2 linked regions of the Homo sapiens genome follow. The protein of the gene in region 1 interacts with the protein of each later gene in a biochemical or structural test. Each region holds a gene or a part of one and is shown on either strand. Other genes may lie near its edges.

Evidence for each region. Proteins that work in one complex are often made in the same cells at the same time.
Region 2: the proteins of ETFB (region 1) and ETFRF1 form a complex in vitro, tested with the Homo sapiens proteins (one study listed by BioGRID).

Annotation. Positions count from the first base shown.
Region 1 is NC_000019.10:51,356,389-51,363,409, forward strand, and holds part of ETFB (electron transfer flavoprotein subunit beta), read right to left. Parts: intron 1-7,021. UniProt on the Homo sapiens protein: Heterodimeric electron transfer flavoprotein that accepts electrons from several mitochondrial dehydrogenases, including acyl-CoA dehydrogenases, glutaryl-CoA and sarcosine dehydrogenase.
Region 2 is NC_000012.12:25,190,506-25,198,257, forward strand, and holds the start of ETFRF1 (electron transfer flavoprotein regulatory factor 1), read left to right. Parts: upstream 1-4,731; 5' UTR 4,732-4,832; exon of another isoform or gene 4,833-4,836; intron 4,837-4,848; exon of another isoform or gene 4,849-7,752. Other genes in the region: DNAI7 (dynein axonemal intermediate chain 7), read right to left, coding at 109-126, 4,381-4,557. UniProt on the Homo sapiens protein: Acts as a regulator of the electron transfer flavoprotein by promoting the removal of flavin from the ETF holoenzyme (composed of ETFA and ETFB).

The sequences.
Region 1 (7,021 bases):
CTCTGACATTTTCTACCCTTTTTCGGAAAAATGCCAGCCCTCTGCCTGGATGTCATGATCACACATGGTCACAACCTAATTTGGAAAACACCAGCATGAAAGACCTCTTTGCTAAACAGACAAGGGAGGTAAGGGAGGTGGGTGGCAAACCCCACCCATTTGCTTCTGCACATCATTTTTGTCTCTCCTGGGCCCCACTGTGTGCCTGGCTCTGAGCTGGATCCTGGGGACACCATCATGTGCCAGGGAGAGAGGCTTCCGGTGTAGACCAGGGTGTAGCGTGAACCACTAACCACTCTCCTATTAGTTTCTCTCGGCTGCCGTAACAAATCACCATATATTTGGTGGCTTAGAATCTTACAGCTCTGGAGGCCAGAAGTCCAAAGTCAGTGTCACCAGGGTGAGACCAAGGGGTCTGCAGGCCCCGGGAGGAACACGTTTCTTGCCTCCTCCAGCTTCTGCTGACACTCCCTGGCTTGTGGCTGCATCGCTTTATCTTCAATGCCAGCATCCTCAGCTCTGTCTTCACGTGGCCTTCTCCTCTCTCTGCGTGTCTAGTCTCCCTCTGTCTCTCTCTTATAAGGACTCTTGAGATGGCATTCAGGGCCCACCTAAATAATCCAGGATAATGCCCCCATCTCAAGATGCTTAATTTAATCACATCTGCAAAGACCCTGTTTCTAATTTCTTTTTTTTTTTTTTTTAGATGGGCTCTCGCTCTGTCGCCCAGGCTGGAGTACAGTGGTGAAATCTCGGCTCACTGCAACCTCTGCCTCCCGGGTTCAAGCAATTTGCCTGCCTCAGCCTCCCAAGTAGCTGGGATTACAGGCATGCATCACCACGCCTGGCTAATTTTTGTATTTTTAGTAGAGACAGGGTTTCACCATGTTGGCCAGGCTGGTCTTGAACTCCTGACCTCAGGTGATCTGCTCTCCTCGGCCTCCCAAAGTGCTGGGATTACAGGCATAAGCCAACATGGCCAGCCTGCAAAGACCCTGTTTCTAAGTGATTTCCCCTTCTCAGGTGCCAGGGATTGAAACCTGGCTGTTTTGGAGGGCTATTTTATTTCTTGGCCCACCACAATCCTTTTTTTCTTTCTTTCTTTTTTTTTTTTTTTTTGAGATGGAGTCTTGCTCTGTTGTCCAGGATGGAGAGCAGTGGCATGATCTCAGCTCATTGCAACCTCTGCCTCCCCAGTTCAAGCGATTCTCCTGCCTCAGCCTCCTGAGTAGCTGTGATTACAGGTGCCCACCACCACGCCCAGCTAATTTTTTGTATTTTTAATAGAGACAGGGTTTCACTATGTTGGCCAGGCTGGTCTCGAACTCCCGATCTCTGGTGATCCACCCACCTCGGCCTCTCAAAGGCAGGGGATTACAGGCGTGAGCCACCGCTCCTGGCCCAACCTGAGTTTTTATAAGGTCATTCTGGATTCTTGGTGGAGAAAATTGGAAAAGGATGAGAGGAAGTGGGGAGAGAGCTGGGTGGCTGTTTGTCACCAAAGTGAGAGGTGACAGTGGCTCAGACAGCTGTGACAGCAGAGACAGATGCAAGAGGTTTCTGGAGGTGCAACTGACAGGCCATGGTTCGTGATGGGAAGATGACACCAAAAAGGGGCTTCCAGTCAGTACATCAGCCAGAGCCGGGAAGACGGCGAGTTTGGTTTGGGGCACAAATTTTTAAAAAGCCTCCAGGGACATCCACAGAAGCCTTGCTAGGGAGCTGCCCCATTTGGCCTGGAGCCTGCCCTCTTCCTCTTCTCCCATGTGGCCGCCACCCAGGGCTTGGCCAGAGCAGATCTCGGGTGGCAGCTGAGCCTGGTGAGGACACTGGGATGCTCTTGCTATTTCCCTGCCCCTTTTTCTCTGGGGCTGTGGGTGTAACTGTTCCTCCCACAGGCAGGACAGAATCCGAGATGAGAAGGTGGGACCCATAAGGGGCTTCCCACTCTGGCTGTGCCTCATGGAGAGGGTAACATTAAAAGATGGAGGACTGAGACCGGGCGCAGTGGCTCCTGTCTGTAATCCCAGAAATTTGGGAGGCCAAGGTGGGAGGATCACTTGTGCCCAGGAGTTGGATACTAGCCTGGGCAACAGGTTCTACAAACAACAACAACAAAAACAAAAACAGCTGGGCGTGGTGGCTCATGCCTGTAATCCCAGCACTTTGGGAGGCCAAGGTGGGCGGATCACCTGAGGTCAAGAGTTCAAGACCAGCCTGGCCAACATGGCAAAACCCCATCTCTACTAAAAATAAAAATAAAATAAAAAATTAGCCGGGCATGGTAGTGCACGCCTGTAATTGCAGCTACTCAGAGGCTGGGGCAGGGAGAATTGCTTGAACCCAGGAGGTGGAGGTTGTAATGAGCCAAGATTGCGCCACGGCACTCCAGCCTGGGCGACAGAGCAAGACTCCGCCTCAAAACAAACAAACAAACAACAACAAAAAAAAAAAAAAAAAAACAGCCAGGTATGGTGGCACACACCTGTAGTCCCAGCTACTCAGGAGGCTGAGGCGGGAGGATCACCTGAGCCCAGGAGGTCAAGGGTGCAGTGAGCCGTGATCATGCCACTACATGTAACCTGGGTGACAGAGCAAGACCTCATCTCAAAAAAGAAAAAGAAAAAGAAAAAGGAGAAAGAGGAGAAGGAGCTGGAAGAGGAGAGGAAAGAGAAAGAACTGTTATTTTCATCTCTCTCGTTGCCCAGGCTGGAGTGCAGAGGTGCCACCTTGCCTTACTGCAACCTCCACCTCCCGGGCTCAGGTGATCCTCCCACTTCAGCCTCCCCAGTAGCTGGGACCACAGGCGGGCACCATCATGCCGGGCTAATTTTTTTTTTTTTACTTTTTGTAGAGAAAGGATTTCCCCGTGTTTCCCAGGCTGGTCTGGAACTCCTGGCCTAAAGTGATCCGCCTGCTTCAGCCTACCAAAGTGATGGGATTACAGGTGTGAGTCGCAGTGCCTGGCCTTTTTTCTTAAAAAAAAAAACACAACATAGGAGTTGCCCCTTTAAGACAGAAAAGAACCTCATCCACCCATCAGTAAGAGGCCCCAAGCTTCTTGCTGTGAGTCAGGGAGGCTTCTGAAGGGCCTCAAGCCACATCTTGCTCTTGCTCTGGCAGAACTCCCAGCCCTAAGCTCCTGATTCCCAGGCTCCTGACTCCTGAGGAGAAAGGGTAAGAACTTTCCAGACACACACACACACACGCACGCACACACACCTGAGGAAACAAACTAGCTCATCTTCTCAATTAAGCTTGAGTTGATTTTAAGCTTCAAAAACAGTTTAGTTATATTACATAAGTCAGGAAACAATGGTAGGGCTGAAAAATGATAGCTTGTTTGTTTTTTAAATAATGATGGCTCATGCCTGTAATCCCAGCACCTTAGGAGACTGAGGAAGGAGGATCACTGGAGCCCAGGATTTCAAGACCAGCCTGGGCAACATAGAGAGACTTCATCTCTACCAAAAAACAAAATTAGCAGGTCATGGTGGCGTGCACCTGTAGTCCCAGCTACTGAGGAGGCTGAGGTGGGAGGACGGCTTGAACCCAGGAGGGTCGAGGCTGCAGCGAGCTGTGACTGTACCACTCTAGCCTGGGTGACAGAGCTAGACCTTGTCTCAAAAAGAAAAAAAAAAAGTTTTATAATTGAGGTAAATCATTCAGCATTAAGTGCTGGCTTTCTCTTAAAGAGACGACATATCCACCAATATCAAAAACAGCCTCAAAGCTGGGCGTGGCGGCTCACACCTGTAATCCCAGCACTTTGTGGGGCTGAGGTGGGTGGATCACTTGTGGTCAGGAGTTCGAGACCAGCCTGGCCAACATGGTAAAACCCCATCTCTACTAAAAATACAAAAATTAGTCGAGCGTTTTAGCACATGCCTGTAATTCCAGCTAGTTGGGAGGCTGAGGGAGGAGAATCACTTGAACCCGGGAGGTGGAGGTTGCAGTGAGCAGGGATCACATCAATGCACTCCAGCCTGGGTGACAGACCAGATTCTATCTCAAAAAAAAAAAAAGAAAAGAAAAAAAAAATTTTTTTAAAAGCAGCACTGACCCATGCAGACAACGAGTCAAGGGTTTTATATGCATTAACTCGTTTGACCATCCTAGTAGCCTGTGAGGTTGGTTACTGCCATTACCTCTCATTTTACAGATGAGGCAACTGAGGCACAGAGAGGCCAAGTACCTTGGCCAGGGCCACTGAGCATGGAAGTGGCAGGACCACGGGTCTAACCCCAAATCTGTCTTGGGAACTGTGAGACTCTGAAAGAGGCTACGTGTGCCCACGGTGTTAGGAGAGCCAGTCTTCCTATTTGTTGTCCACTGCAGGCAAGAGGGATTTTCTTCTCTTCTCTTTTCTTTCTCTCTTTCTCTCTCTCTCTCTCTCTCTCTTTCTCTTTCTTTTTGATACAGAGTCTTGTTCTGTTGCCCAGGCTGGGGTGCAGTAGTATGATCTTGGCTCACTGCAAACTCCACCTTCTGGGTTCAAGCGATTCTCCTGCCTCAGCCTCCCCAGTAGCTGGGACTACAGGCGCCTGCCACCACGCCTGGCTAATTTTTTGTATTTTTAGTAGAGACAAGGTCTCACCGTGTTAGCCAGGATGGTCTCAATCTCCTAACCTTGTGATCCACCCGCCTCAGCCTCCCAAAGTGCTGAGATTACACGTGTGGGCCACCGCGCCCGGCCCACGCCTGGCTAATTTTTTTATTTTTAGTAGAGATGGGGTTTCGTCATGTTGGCCAGGCTGGTCTCGAACTCCTGACCTCAGGTGATCCGCCCACCTCGGCCTCCCAAAATGCTGGAATTACAGGTGTGAGCCACCACGCCCGGCCCAAGAGGGATTTTATAAAGTGATTTTCGACAGCTCTTCCTGAACCCCTGACACAGCTCAAGGACTTGTGTGGTTCTGTCCTCTAGGCTTTTCTGTCAAGCGAGTCCCTGGGCACGTGCTAGGGCACTCAGCAAGCAGGACAGCCAAGGCCAGGGAGCCACCCCAGTGACAGATCACTAACTCGGCGGGGGGCAGACAGAGAACTCGTCCCTGAGGTGACATGTGAGCCCCACGTGTGCCCTGTCAGACAAGGTGGCCTTGCTGAGAGCAGGAGGGGCAAGTGCGTGGAGCCCAAAGAGGAAAACCTGAAGAAACACCAGGCGCTCCCAGACGAGAGGGTGTGGCTGGTCGGGGTTGGGCCCCGAGATGGAAACACGTTTTCTGGGCCTGGAGTTTCTATCCTGTGGGGTCATCTCTAAGAAAATGAATCCCAGATAATGAATACAAAATTGCCCAGCCTCTCCTGGGTTTTTTTTTTTTTTTTTTTTTTTGTGAGACGGAGTCTCCCTCTGTCACCCAGGCTGGAGTGCAGTGGCACGATCTCGGTTCACTGCAACCTCCGCCTCCCTGGTTCAAGCGATTCTTCTGCCTCAGCCCCCCGAGTAGCTGGGACTACGGGCACGCGCCGCCATGCCCAGCTAATTTTTGTATTTTTAGTAGAGACAGAGTTTCACTCTGTTGGCTAGGATGGTCTTGAACTCCTGACCTCGTGATCCACCCACCTCAGCCTCCCAAAGTGTGTGTTTACAGGCGTGAGCCACCAGGCCCAGCCTTTCTCCTGGGGTCTTGAAAGAGGCCCTGAAGGTTAAGCTTCATCAGCTTCCTGTAAAATGTGCCCCTGAACAGGACAGGGTGTTACTGAGTTGCCAAATACCTATTAAAATGTTAGATACACGCACATACCCAGAAACATACACACAGCCGGACACACATACACACACACACACACACACACACACACACACACACACACACGAATACACTCTGAGCACAGCATTTGTTATGTTTTGAATAAATGACTAACTAAACATCCATTACTACTACTCCCAATAAAAACACTTATTGCAGCTGGTCACAGTGGCTCACACCTGTAATCCCAGCACGTTGGGAGGCTGAGGCGGGTGGATTACCTGAGGTCAGGAGGTCTAGACCAGCCTGGCTAACATAGCAAAACCTCGTTTCTACTAAAAATACAAAAATTAGCCAGGCGTGGTGGCTCACACGTGTAATCCCAGCTACTCAGGAGGCTGAGGCAGAGTTGCTTGAACCTGGGAAGTGGAGGTTCCAGTGAGCTGAGATCATGCCACTGCACTCCAGCCTGGGCAACAGAGATAGACTCCGTCTCAAAAAATAAAACAAAACAAACCACTGTGTGCCAGGCACTGTTCCAAGGGCTTATTTAATTTTCATTACAACTCAATAAAGTAGATAGTACCATCATCCCCATTGTACAGAGTAGAAAAATGAGGCTTAGAGTGGTGAAGCAATTTCCTCAAGGTCACACAGCAGGAAGTGGACGCAGGCGCTGGGCTTGGAGTCTGAGGTCTGCACTATTCTAGTAGTGAACCCACTGTCTCAGGAAGCAGTGACCACATCAAACTGTCTCCCCCACACCTGGAGCTCAAATTCCAGAAGGGGCGACAGACACCAGAGCAATCAATAAGTAAACAACACTGTGGATTACAAAGTGTCCACACCAGCTTCCCTCTGGGGACAAGCTGGGCTCTCAGAGGGTGCCCCTGCTCCCACCTCCTTCATGGAGAATGTGAGTCACTCCCTCCACTCAGTTAGGTTGGCTCCTTGAACTTTCATCTCTAGCAAACATACTTTCCTCTCCCTTTCTAGTTGCTAAGTATAGGGGAAAACACAGCAAAACACAGGGACCTGGGGCCTGTGATTTTAAGGAGGCAAGCAGGGAAGTCCTCCCAGAGAAGGTGATGTTTGAAAAGGAGGTGAAAGAGGTCAGGGAGTGAGCACGTGATTCTGGGAACAGAGGTGGATCAGACATGGCCCCTCTCTGCAGGGAGCTACCAGCCTGGGGATGATGGAGTAGGGCAGTGGGGAACATGGGGTAAACAGAGGATCCCAATCCAGTCTGGCGAGGGCTGATGGAAGCAAATCTAGGGACTGCAGAAGCCCCCAGGGATATACCAAGGCAACCTGAGGGTGTAGGGTCAGGG
Region 2 (7,752 bases), on another chromosome or scaffold:
AAACTCTACAAACTAAAACTATAAAAATATTTTATAATTCTGTAAATATTCTGTTCATACACTGTAAGTGATTATACAACTATCTATTTTGAAAAAAATTCTACATACCTTTTTTGCTTTGGGACCCTAAAAGTTGGAAAACAAAAGAATTGATCAATTTTAAAGACAATTCTGATACAAAAGTATCATGATTATGTAAGATGTTAAAATTAGAAGAAGCTTGGTAAAGGGCATAAGGGAACTCTCTGTACCATCTTTGTAACTTTCCTTGCAAATCTAAAATTATCCCAAAATAAAATGCTTTTTTAAAAAGAGTTCAGACAAAACTACAAATAAGTATAGAAAAACTAAGTTCACCTACTGAACCATTTTTTTGTATGTAGATTTTACACTGTTTCTTAGGACAATCAATGATCCATGTTTAATGAAATGCCCTGTTACTAAACAGAGTACTAGTCAAGAAGGCACTAGTTTAAAGGGTTCAAAGGACAATAAATCATTGACCAATTATTGGCACTAATGTCAAATTTGCAAGTGTGGGAATGATCTCATAAAGAAATAACCTTTCCGTAAAGTTAGATTGATGATTTTTATAGAAAGGGAATCAGTTATTTAAAGCACGCAAAGTAGCCTCACACGGTGGCTCACTCCTGTAATAGCATTCGCGGAGGCCAAGGCGGGAGGATCACCTGAACCCAAGAGTTCAAGATCAGCCCGGGCAACACAGGAAGACCCCGTCTCTACAAAAAATTTTAAAAATTAGCCAAGCACATGCGTGTGGTCCCAGCTACTTGGGAGGCTGAGGTGGGAAGATCACTTGAGCCCGGGAGGTCAAGGCTGCAGCGAGCCATGACACTCAGCCTGGGCAGCCAAGCGAGACCGCATTTCCAAAAAATGAATAAATAAATAAAACAGGCGGCTGGGTGTGGTGGCTCACACCTGTAATCCCAGGACTTTGGGCGGCTGAGGAAGGTGGATCACGGGGTCAGGAGATGGAGGCCATCCTGGCTAACACGGTGAAACCCCGTCTCTACTAAAAATACAGAAAATTGGCCGGGCATGGTGGCATGTGTCTGTAGTCCCAGCTACTTGGGAGGCTGAGGCAGGAGAGTCGCTTGAACCTGGGAGGCGGAGCTGCAGTAAGCCAACATCGCACCACTGCACTCCAGTCTGGGTGACAGAGCAAGACTCAAAAAATAAACAAATAAATAAATAAATAAAGCAGGTAAAGCTATGATAAAATGAAGATTCTATTCAGCAATGTGTTTTAAGGCAGATCTATTCTTTTCTGGAAATTATTTTGGAAAGCACAGGATTTCAAAAAAGACTCACAGTTACAATAATATCACTTATACTTTCCTGATTAGGCTCATGTGTTTATCAGATTTCTGGTAAGGAATTTATAGGAGATCATGTGAACATAAGACACTTTACATATTTGAAGAGTTATACATGGGAAATATTAGTTCAACCCATAAGATTATACTGTGTAAAACTGAAGTTTAACACATATCAGTAGATTCCATCTTCTTGAAGAGTGCATATATTACACTAATTCACTCGGCAGATATTAATTAATGATTTACACACAAGGCAATCTGAGGCACTGGAGATAGAAAAGTAGAGACTTTGCTGCCATATAATTTTTACAAATAGATTCTATTTTTATCATAGCTTCTATCAATTAATAGTTAACATACTTCCATCGTGAAATAAGTACTAAACAGCTGAATATGTAAATAGCATTGCTCCAGTTCTCAATTAGCCATATTTTAAAGAGGGGCAAATTGTCACTTCTCACTTGTGCTTTTAATGTAAATCAGGTTTGGGGTAAGTACATATCCTCATTTCTCCTATATGTCATAATAGCCACTATGTAGTGAAGTAGTTCTCAAAGTTCAGAGGGCATAAGAATCATATGGGAAGCTTGTTAGAAATGCATATTTATGGACTAAACGTGTGTATGCTCACTTCTCTTCCTACACTGTGGTTTAGTAGATGTTATGGGCTGAATTGTATTGCTCAAAAAATTACATGTTGTCCGGGTGCGGTGGCTCACAGCTGTAATCCCAGCACTTTGGGAGGCCGAGGCAGGGGGATCACCTGAGGTCAAGACCAGCCTGGCCAACATGGTGACACCTCGTTTCTACTAAAAATACAAAAATTAGCTGGGCGTGGTGGCATGCACCTGTAATCCCAGCTACTCGGGAGGCTGAGGCAGGAGAATCGCTTGAAGGAGAATCGCTTGAACCCGGGAGGCAGAGGTTTCAGTAAGCCGAGATCGCGCCATTGCATTCCAGCCTGGGCAACAGAGCGAAACTCTGCCTCAAAAAAAAAAAAAAAAAAAAAAATCATATGTTGGCTGGGTGCACTGGCTTACTCCTGTAATCCCAGCATTTTGGGAGGTCAAAGTGGGAGAATCACTTGAGCCCAGGAGTTTGAGGGCAGCCTGGGCAACAAAGCAAGACCCTGTCTAAAAAAATTTAAAAATTAGCTGGGTGTGGTGGCACGTGCCTTGTACTCCCAGCTATTCAGGAGGCTGAGTTGGGAAGATTGCTTGAACCAGGGAGGCTGAGACTTCGATAAGCCATGATGGTGACACTGCATTGCAGCCTAGGTGACAAAGCGAGACAGTCTCAAAAAGAAAAAAAAAAAAGAAAAAAAATTCATACGTTGAAATTCTGATCCCCAGTACTTCAGAATTTGATCTAATTGGAGACAGGGTCACTGCTGATTTTATTAGTTAAATTAAGATGAAGCCATACTGAATAGGGTGGGCCCCTAATCCAATATGATTTGTGTCCTTATATAATAATAATTTTAATATACTCAGATGGAGAATGCCATGTGAAGAATGAAGTTTTGTTGCCACAAACCAAGAAACTACTAGAAGCCAGGAAAGGTCTGAACAGATCTCTCCCTAAGGCCCTCAGAGGTATCACAGACCTGCTGACACTTTGATCTTGGACTTCTAGTCTCCAGAACTACGAGACAATAAATTTCTTTTCTTTAACCACTCAGTTTGTGGCAATTCCTTACTTGGCAGACTTAGGAAACTAATACAGTAGATTTGGAGTTGAGTGGGTTCCTGGAATCTGCATTTTTAACAAGTACTCCGGGTGCATTAGAAATAAATGTTCCATGGGCCACACTTTGAGAAACATTGGGAGAAGGATCTAAGAAGAAGAAGAAACTCAGGTAACAAATTGGAAGGTAACAAGTAAGTGCTTACTGTTCCCCCAATTTATTAGCAATTATAAATTGACTTAAGGTCCATTTGCATTCCGCCAGGAATGCTCTCCACTCCCTATTTCTTTTTTTCTCTTTTTTTTTTGAGACGGAGTCTCGCTCTGTCACCCAGGCTGGAGTGCAGTGGCACAATCTCGGCTCACTGCAACCTCCGCCTCCCAGGTTCAAGCGATTCTCTTGCTTCAGCCCCCTGAGTAGCTGGAATTACAGGTGCGCGCCAACACGCCCGGCTAATTTTTGTATTTTTAGTAGAGACTGGGTTTCACCATGTTGACCAGGCTGGTCTCGAACTCCTGACATCGTGATCTGCCCGCCTCGGCCTCCCAAAGTGCTGGGATTACAGGGGTGAGCCACCGCGCCAGGCCTCCACTCCCTATTTCTTCCCACCATATGTGGAAAACTCGTATTTATACTTTAAAACAGGTTGAAAAGCACCACTCTCCTTCCCTTGTTTCCCCTCACTGAAATTTCATCATTTCCAACTGTGTGTTACCCCATTTTAGATGCTTCAATTGTTACAGTTGTAAAGCTGTATTGTAATTAATTTGTTTAATCTGTATCCTATAAGCAGAGTTGTCGTCATGTTCTTCTTGGTATTCTTGGCTTCTAGCCCAGTGCCAAGTACAAAGAATGCACTCCACATTTTTCCCTTAATTAATGAATTAAATAAGTAATTACATTCTCCACTTCCTCTGGTTTTAATTATAGAAAATGTCTTGATGGAAACCACATTTAAGAAAATCAGAGATACTCTCATAGCTACATGTTGGCCTGTCTCCTTGCTGAAAACATGGCAGTTGAGGAGTGCAGAAAAACAAAATGAGAAGCCTTATCATATTTAACTAATGCAGGATGAGAACCTTGAATCACAAAACAATTCATATTCCCACAAAAGACGACATAAAATATTTTTTCAAAGCAGAGTAAATTGCATTAGCTTTTAATTAACTGCTGGAGAAGTACTAAAACATTTCCGCCAAGTTGCAATAAGAAAATTTAGTGGGAACGTCTATCACTACTGAAAGTTACTAGGTTGGGACCAATTTTCAAGCTTAGCAACATTCGAGATCAGGATACCGTGTGACAGCTTTGACCATCTCCCGTTTGCAGAAACTGGTTTGGGACTCCTACCTGTCCGCCTGGTCCAGGTAAGGAAAGCCATTGCTGAGAAGAGGGCCGACCCACCCCAAGGTATGAGTTATTTCCCAAACCGACCCGCTTCGCTGTAAAATATGACTGGCTCTTGATTACATTATTTAACACTGGTGAAGCAGAATCAGTGGTCGCCCCTCCACCTGTCTGCCTCATTTGCCTTGCTCACCATTAAGAGTCAAGCTCCACTGCAGTAGTCCGCAGAGTCGGAGCAGAAATTGTGTGGACAAACGCTCCCGGGTTGCCCGGACGACAGGCCCCGCCCACTTGAGCTCCAGGAAAAGAGCGCAGCCGCGCGGAGGCTCTTCCGGCCGGCGCCCCGCCCCCTTTACTGACAGGTTGCCCACCTCCCCCAACGCCACCCCGCTTCGCAGTAGACGGACAGAGGAGTCGTAGCGGTCGAGGCTTTTGCGGCTCCGGCGTGCCGGAAAGTGCGTGAGTGCCGCCGCCGGGGAGTTTTGTTCCATTTCCCGGATCCTGGGGTCTGGAGGCGAAATATGCTCTGGGCGAGGACCACCGGGTGTGGGAAGAGGGTTCTGAGCGTCTCCTGACGTTGACGGTTTATTTCCTAGAGTGTGTTGGGTCTTTCTGTGAGGGTTTCGAGAAGGAAACAGGCATGCGACTGGTTCATGCAGCGGACACCCGGTGGGAGGCCTGGGCCTCTGCGGTTTAATCCAGCAGGGGGATGGGGCTCATTCCGCAATTTAAAGAGAGAAATAAGTTGGCTCCAGAGGGTTGGTTATTTTAAGATTAATGACCTTCGGATTCTTCTTTCTGCTCTATTGTTTACTTTCTGTGCAGCGTACGCGTCCTTTTTCCTAAGAGCGCCCTAAACAAGAATTGAAAATGAAGCAATTCCTGGCTAAAATATTCCTTAACATGAAGATCGCTGAGGCCCCAAAGACTCATTAGTTTCCCGAGGTCACAGACTAATTTTACTAACCACACAACCTTTAGAATTTCAGTCTCCTCCCACATGAAGAAACGCCGGCACCTTACACCGACAGGAAAACTACAATTAAGTGAGGCTGTTCTCCTCAAGCCCGACTGAGTTCTCTGTAATTGTAGGGCATACCTACACCCTGTTTTAGCATTATGAGACCTGAAATACTTTTAAATTACTGGCACCATTTCTCATCTCTGAATTATAAGTTTATAATGCTCTATCCCTTCCAGTGTTATTGACTACATGCATTATTCATAGATAAGTAGTAGGACTAAGCTAGTCTTTGTGGGTTAAAGTGTTATTATCCCTATTGTAACCTGTAACTATTATAGGTTGTGTAATAGTTATTAGCATTTTACATCCATATCCTGGTAGCAAGATAAAAACATTTTAATAGCGACTTCGTACAGAGTTCTTACTCAGTTTACCATAGCTGTTTGATATGAAAGTTAAGGCTTCCTTTTAAATTAGTTTCAGTAAAACTAATGTTTAATGATAAAACACCTCAGTCAACTCAAGTTAGGATTCATCGGGGTAAGGAGATAGTTCAGTAATCCCAAGTTACCTTAAAATAGTGGGCTTTTAGAGGAAAGGCTTTACTGAAGCTCTCACTGTATCTACCCCATGGGGAACAATGATTAACAACTTTGGCCACCACATAACCCCCAGTAAAATGACAATTTTCCATTAGCCTGGAACTGGAACTGGTTAAGTCCTAACTCCTTAGCCTAGAATGACAGGGGGAAAAAACTATCAATGGGGACTGCAACCGCTGTCTCATCCAGCGCACACATCCAAGTTTTCAGAATAATAGGGGGCTTCTCTTAGTCCTTAACTCTTGGCTCTTTACTTAAAACAGTAACCTCCATGACTTCATGCAGAGTTCAGGAGCAGCCTCAGGGCCCTGCTGAACTCAAAATTGTTTATTCACTACATTGTGAACCCAAGGAGACCTATTTCTCTTAGTGGCTAAAGTAAACCTAAATGCTTCAAGGTCAACTGCATAAAGATAAACTGCATTGCCTGGTGTGGTGGCTCACGCCTGTAATCCCAGCATTTTGAGAGGCCAAAGTGGGTGGATCACGAGGTCTGGAGATGGAGACCATCCTGGATAACACAGTGAAACCCCGTCTCTACTAAAATAATACAAAAAATTAGCCGGGCGTGGTGATCAGCACCTGTAATCCCAGCTGCTCTGGAGGCTGAGACGGGAATCGCTTGAACCCGGGAGAGGGAGGTTGCAGTGAGCCAAGATCGCACCACTACACTCCAGCCGGGTCAACAGAGCAAGACTCCGTCTCAAAAAAAAAAAAAGATAAACTGCATTAATTCATATAAGTTAACATATCAAAGAAGAACAAATTTGCCATAGCCACACTAGTTACATTTTTGCTGGGCAAGTGTTTTATGATACATAATTTGTAAAAAGACCAACAACTAAAAAGGACAACTTAAGCCAGGTCCCTGAAAGCTTTCACAAGTTACAAATTGTGAATTAAATGAAGCTGTGCTGTTAGGCATTAAACAGGTTATAGTTTGCAATTCGAAATTACATCTATGTATATTTAATTTTAAATTATGTGAAAAGAACATGGTTCCGAAGAGGTGTTTTTTGTTTGTTTTGTTTTGAGACAGGGTCTCAAAATGAATTTTGCCCAGGTTGGAGTGGTGGAACAATCACGGCTCACTACAGCCTCAACCTCCTGGGCTCAAGCGATCCTCCCACCTCAGCCTCTCAAATAGCTGAGACTACAGGCACACGCCACCATGCCTGGCTAATATTTTTTTACTTTTAGTAGAGACAAGGTCTCACTCACTATGTTGCCCAGGCTGGTCTCAAACTCCTGAGCTCAAGCCATCCTCCAGCCCTGGCCTCCCAAAGTGCTGAGATTACAGGTACAAGCCACCATGCCCAGCCTAAGAATCATTCTTAGTAAGATTATTTCACGCTGCTAATGGCTCTCTGCCAAAAGAAAAAAAAGGAAGTTTAAAGAATGAAGTAGTTAATATAGTGGGTTAAATACCCTCATCTAATTTTACTCCCTTCCAAAACTACTAAATCTACAGTAAAATGATATAAAAATAAATTGGAAAAATGGGGACAGGAGGTAACAGCAATAAAACTCAGAAGCTGGAAAACAGGTGAATGAATGTGACTTAGCACACCAGAAAAACCCAATTCACTCTGCAGAATTCTCAAAAGGCACTGAAACACGCACCCTGAAATTGGAAGTGGACTACATGAAAGCTATTTGAGAAACACCTCTAAGTAACTCTACCCCCTTACTCCCATAGAAGACTAGAGGTTTATTTCTGGACAAAGTAATACTAGTCCCTGGACTGGGGCATCCTCAGGCATTCTAGAGAAGCACACTGGAAACAAAGTTAAGTGAATTTAGGAATAC